2 separate regions of the Homo sapiens genome follow, and region 2 is linked to region 1. Evidence: fine-mapped expression QTL. A gene starts in region 1. The other region holds a variant in brackets. All regions are shown on one strand. Distances are from middle to middle. Region 1 holds the start of RNF126 (ring finger protein 126). Region 2 holds the start of PRSS57 (serine protease 57).

Region 1 (2,899 bases):
CGTCTACTAAAAATACAAAAATTAGGCGGGCGTGGTGGTGCCCAGCCTGTAATCCCAGCAACTCGGGAGCCTGAGGCAGGAGAATCACTTGAACCCGGGAGGCGGAGGTTACAGTGAACCGAGATTGCGCCATTGCACTGCAGCCTGGGCAACAGAGCCAGACTCCATCTCTAAAAAACAAACAAACAAACAAAAAATCTAAATGCACAGGCTCCAACTCTTAATTCCTCAACAGTCTCGCTCCAATGCCTCATTTTGCAGGAAGTCCAACTCCAACCAAATCCTATTCATCCCTCAGCCCTGGTTCCAATGTCCTTACCCCTCGGAAGCCCTCTCTCTCTTTCCCCAGGCAGAGCCAGAGTCACCCTTGAGTTCCACGCTCCTGTCCAATCTCATGGGACTGGGGGTATCTGCGTGCATTCAGCATAGGGTCTGGTGTGCAGTAGTTGCTCAATGAGTGTTGAGTGAAGAAAGAAATACACGCATGAGGCCGGGCGCGGTGGCTCATGCCTGTAATCCCAGCACTTTGGGAGGCCGAGGCGGGCGGATCACGAGGTCAGGAGTTCAAGACCAGCCTGGCCAAATATAGTGAAACCCCGTTTCTACTAAAAATACAAAAATTAGCCGGTGTGGTGGCGGGTGCCTCTAGTCCTAGCTACTCGAGAGGCTGAGGCGGGAGAATCGCTTGAACCCTCGGCAGGCGGAGGTTGCAGTGAGCCGAGATCGGGCCATTGCACCCCAGCCTGGGTGACAGAGTGAGACTCCGTCTCAAAAAAAAAAAGAAAAAAGAAATGCATGCATGATTGGGCCAGAACTAACCTCAGAAATGATCCTGGCCTGTGCTGGGTGATGATACCGTTTCTACTGATTAAATTTGGAAGCAGGGGTTAGGTTTCCTGCCTTCTCCGCACCCGAGAGGCGCCTGGGCCGTCAGCCCGTGGAGCATCTTGGAAACAAGGCCACAACCCACAGACCTCAGCCTCTGTCTGACCCCACGGGTCCCAGTGAGGCCCAGACAGCGCCCTGAGCCCCGGGTCTGCCTGTATTCCGCAGCGCTGAGGGAATGCCTGCTGTGTGTCAGGCGCTGCTGCGGGTCCAAAAATCCCTTTGCTGCGCAGCTGACCTGACAGTGCATCGGGAGGGAATCAGTGCCACGGAGCAGGAGGGCAGCAGAGAAGACCTTGTAAGCTGACATTTGAGCAAAGACCTGGAAGAAAGCCACGCGGGCGTCGGGAGAGCGCTGCACCGGGCAGCGGGCGGGGGAGAGGGCGCCTGGCGAGCCCCAGGAACGGTGGGGACAGTGGGCTGAAGTACCGTGAGGGGAGACGGCGATGAGGTAGGGAAGCACTGAGGGACACGAAGGCCTGGGCAGCTTCGGGAGGGGAGGAGGGCCTCGGCCCCGCCCCGCGCACGCCCCGCTTCTCGTCTCTTCCGCCGCCTGCTTTGGCCCCGCCCCCGCCGGAAGCCCCGCCCCCGCTTGGAGCCCCGCCCAACGGCCGGGCCTAGTTTGTCTCTCAGCGGCCACCGTCGCCCGGGCCGCTGCCCGCCGAGTACGCAGCTTTCGCCGCTCCCGCGCCCCCGCTCCGCCCCGCGTGCCGTGCGTGCCGTGCGTGAGCGTGCGCGGGCGCGTCGGCCGGCGAGGGAGCAGCAAACGGCCGGCGGCGGGTGCCGCGCGGGGGGCGGGCGGCGCGGAGTAGGTGGCGGCGGCCATGGCCGAGGCGTCGCCGCATCCCGGACGGTACTTCTGCCACTGCTGCTCCGTGGAGATCGTCCCGCGCCTGCCGGTGAGGCCCGGGCCGGGGCGGCGGGCGGCAGGGTCTGCGCCGCAGGCCTGAGGCAAGGCCGGGGCCGGGGTGGGGGTCGCTTGCGCCCGCCTCTTGCGCGAGCTGACCACGACGGGAAAACTGAGGCTCGGGGCAGCGCCGGCCCAGGCTGAATCCGCGGGGAGCCCGGGCGGTGCGCGCGCGAACCCCGTCCTGTACATGCGGGAGACTGAGGCCCGGGCGGGAGGCAGGGCCTGGCCGGAGCGGCGCAGCGGGATCGCGGCCGGGTGACCCCACATCCGCGGCGTTCCCGACCCGAGAGGCCGCGAGGATCCCAGGTGGGATCCCTAAGCCCGGTGAGCCTGGTTTTGCAAACGGAGAAACTGAGGCCCGGCGAGCAGAGAGAGGGTATTGCCCGGTGGCGCGGCGCGGGGCAGGGGCTGGGCCTGGCGGGGCTCGGACCCCGAGAATAACGCCAGGGGACCCCCGCCGAGCGCGTGGTTGGGGGCGCCGGCGCCTCGCTGCAGGCTCGCCTCGTGGAGCCCTGGCCGCCGCCTTGGAGGCAGGCCCAGGCCCGGAACGCCCCAGGCACTGTCCCGGGGTCCGACCGCGGCCCGCCGGCGGGGCTTTGTGAGCAGAGCCTGCGTTCCTCCCCTCCCGGGGCTTGGCTGCGCAGCCCACCCTTCCTCCAGGTGTTTACAGCCGCCCCTCACCGAAGAGGACCCTGGGCCTGGGCGTGCCGAGTGCTACTTCCTGCTCGTTTAGGGCAGTGTTTCCCACGCGGACCTGATGTCACCTTGGGGGAGGTGGGAGCAGCGCTCGTTGAAGGTGCTATTTCCAGGCCCCTTTTCCAGGGTTTCGGAGTCAGTAGGTGTGGAATGCGCTCAGCAGTCTGCATTTCTAATATTATTTTTAGGAATGGGGTCTCCCTGTGTTGCCCAGGCTGGTCTTGAACTCCTGGGCTCAAGCGATTCTTCTGGCTCAGCCTCCCAAAACGCTGGGATTACAGGTGTGAGCCACCGTGCCCGGCGGTGGTCTGCATTTTTAACCCGTGTTGCCCTTCGCCAGGCTGACGTGCAAAGTGGTGATTTAGTCGAGCCACCCGTGCTTTATAGATGGGGAAACTGAGGCGCGTG
Region 2 (2,899 bases), 31 kb before region 1:
TTATTATCAACATGATTATTACCAGCCACCACCTGAGACCATCGATTTCTCAGAAACGCCCGCCTGGGCTCCAGGCGTTGCTGGTGGGGCCTCCCGACCACAGGCCACAGCCAGGCTCCCCCTTTCCGGCCGTTGGCTGAGGGTGGGAGCCACGGCCCGAAGACCTCTGCGGGGAGACGCCAGCCTGCGTCTGCCATGGGGCTCGGGTTGAGGGGCTGGGGACGTCCTCTGCTGACTGTGGCCACCGCCCTGATGCTGCCCGTGAAGCCCCCCGGTGAGGAGCCCCCCGGGATCCCCACCCAGGCCCCCGCCAAGTCCCCGTACGGGGGCCACACCCGGGAACCCCCAGTCCCGGGAGAACCCTGGGGAGAGCTCCACCTGCTCCATCTGCCGAGCCCCCGTGGCTGCCTCTGCTGGAAATGGATGGAAATCCGGCCGGGGTCTCTGCCCAGCCCAGCCCTGGATCTCCCGGGCTCGGGAGCCCCTCCCAGCGCATCTGGGGGGCTTGTCTGGGCTCTGTCTCCAGCTCTCTGGGTCTCTCCGTCTCTAATCTCACCCCCTGTCTCTGTCTTGGCCGCTACTTCTCCCCCTGCCCTGACCCCAGCCCCGTCATCCGTTCCTCCCGCCTCGTCCCTGACTCAGGCCGTCCCTCCAGCAGGCTCCTGGGGGGCCCAGATCATCGGGGGCCACGAGGTGACCCCCCACTCCAGGCCCTACATGGCATCCGTGCGCTTCGGGGGCCAACATCACTGCGGAGGCTTCCTGCTGCGAGCCCGCTGGGTGGTCTCGGCCGCCCACTGCTTCAGCCACAGGTGAGCTCACCTGTCGGGCCCCTTCTTTCTGGACACCGTATCCCGACATGAGGGGGACTCCAGGCTGGTGGGGGAGCTGGGGGCGCCGTGGCTCCTGCAGGAGGGGGAGTCTCAGCAGGGGCTGGATTTAAAGGGCAACAAAGGGAAAACAGGAGGATAAGGCAGGGAGGCAAAAGAAGCACAGAAGAAGCAACAGGCGCAACAAGTACATATTCTGTTACTGTAACTGTCACTATGTTCTTTTTTTTTTTTGAGGCAGTCTCGGTTCCCCAGGCTGGAGTGCAACGGTGCAATCTCGGCTCACTGCAACCTCCACCTCCC[G/C]GGCTCAAGCGATTCTCCTGCCTCAGCTTCCCGAGTAGCTGGGATCACAGGCGCCCACCACCACACCTGGCTAATTTTTGCATTTTTAGTAGAGACTGGATTTCACCATGTTGGCCAGGCTGGTCTCGAACTCCTGACTTCAAATGATCCACCCGCCTCTGCCTCCCAAAGTGCTGGGATTGCAGGTGTGAGCCGCCATGCCCTGCCTCGTTTTAAACATATTGTTATAATAACTATTAAAATGTATATTGGGGCCAGGGTGGGTGGGTCCCCTCCTGCAGGAGCCCCCACCAGGCACGGGATAGGTTGGTCCTGGGCTGCAGTGTCCCCAGCTCCCCCGCCAGCCTGCAGTCCCCCTCACGTTGGGACACGGTGGATTGTTTGAGGTCAGGAGTATGAGACCAGCCTGGCCAACATGGTGAAACTCTGTCTCTACTAAAAATACGAAAATTAGGCTGGGTGCGGTGGCTCATGCCTGTAATCCCAGCACTTTGGGAGGCCGAGGCAGGAGGATCACGAGGTCAGGAGATCGAGACCATCCTGGCTAATACAGTGAAACCCCATCTCTACTAAAAATACAAAAAAATTAGCCGGATGTGGTGGCAGGCGCCTGTAGTCCCAGCTACCCAGGAGGCTGAGGCAGGAGAATGGCGTGAACCCGGGAGGCGGCGCTTTCAGTGAGCCGAGATCGCGCCACTGCACTCCAGCCTGGGGGACAGAGCGAGACTCTGTCTCAAAAAAAAAATACGAAAATTAGTTGGGCATGGTAGCAAGTGGCTGTACGTATCCCCAGCTACTCGGGAGGCTGAGGTAGGAGAATCACTTGAACCCAGGAGGTGGAGGTGGCAGTGAGCCGAGATGGCACCACTGCACTCCAGCCTAGGGGAAAGAGTGAGATTCTGTCGGAAAAAAAAAAGTTAATTGTGGTTTTTGCCATTTAATTTTTTTCGTGCAATTACTTTTGCACCAACCTAATATTATCACGGGGCCGGCGTGAGCATTAAATGGATTACTGGGCCTCCATTTCATAGATGAGTGGACTGAGGCCCAGACGGGCAGCCGTCACCCCCATCTCACCCACCCCCTCCTCCCCGCAGAGTCCTCCGCACCGGAGCTGTGCTTCTGTGGTCCCAGCTACTTGAAAGGCTGCTGTGGGAGGATCGCTTGAGCCTGGGAGGTCGAGGCTGCAGTGAGCTGTGATCACACCACTGCGGCCTGGGTGACAGAGTGAGACCTTGTCTCAAAAAAAAAAAAAAAAAAAAGGCCGGGTGCGGTGGCTCACGCCTGTAATCCCGGCACTTTGGGAGGCCGAGGCAGGCGGATCACGAGGTCAGGAGATCGAGACTGTCCTGGCTAACACGGTGAAACCCTGTCTCTACTAAAAAAAAATACAAAAAATTAGCCGGATATGGTGGCGGGCGCCTGTAGTCCCAGCTATTCAGGAGGCTGAGGCAGGAGAATGGCGTGAACCCGGGAGGTGGAGCTTGCAGAGAGCCAAGATTGCACCACTGCAATCTTGCCTGGGTGACAGAGCGAGACTCCGTCTCAAAAAAAAAAATTAAAGAAATAAAAAAAGGAGAATATTGAAATTACTGTAGTTAATATTATAATTGAAATAGAACTTATAATAAATATAATAAGTATTATCTTCATTCTAAATATGTTTTTATAATAATGATTCAAATTAATACCACAACTATTGCAGTTAATTCTATATTGGAGGTAGGAAAAATAATAAACATAATTATTAATTTATTATCATAATA

Evidence for each region. PIP is the estimated chance that this variant, and not a neighbour inherited with it, causes the effect.
Region 2: its variant is the best candidate, but not a certain one, in a credible set for the expression of RNF126 in whole blood (TOPMed, PIP 0.56).

The regions. Positions count from the first base shown.
Region 1 is chr19:661,932-664,830 of GRCh38, reverse strand. RNF126 (ring finger protein 126) reads left to right here and starts at 1,617. Exons shown (of 9, transcript NM_194460.3): 1 at 1,617-1,784. The coding sequence starts at 1,710. RefSeq lists silencers at 1,291-1,770, 2,261-2,550 and an enhancer at 2,601-2,650.
Region 2 is chr19:692,727-695,625 of GRCh38, reverse strand. It overlaps PRSS57 (serine protease 57), which reads left to right and starts at 174. Exons shown (of 5, transcript NM_001308209.2): 1 at 174-274; 2 at 659-812. The coding sequence starts at 196. The variant G/C (reference allele first, on the strand shown) is at 1,134.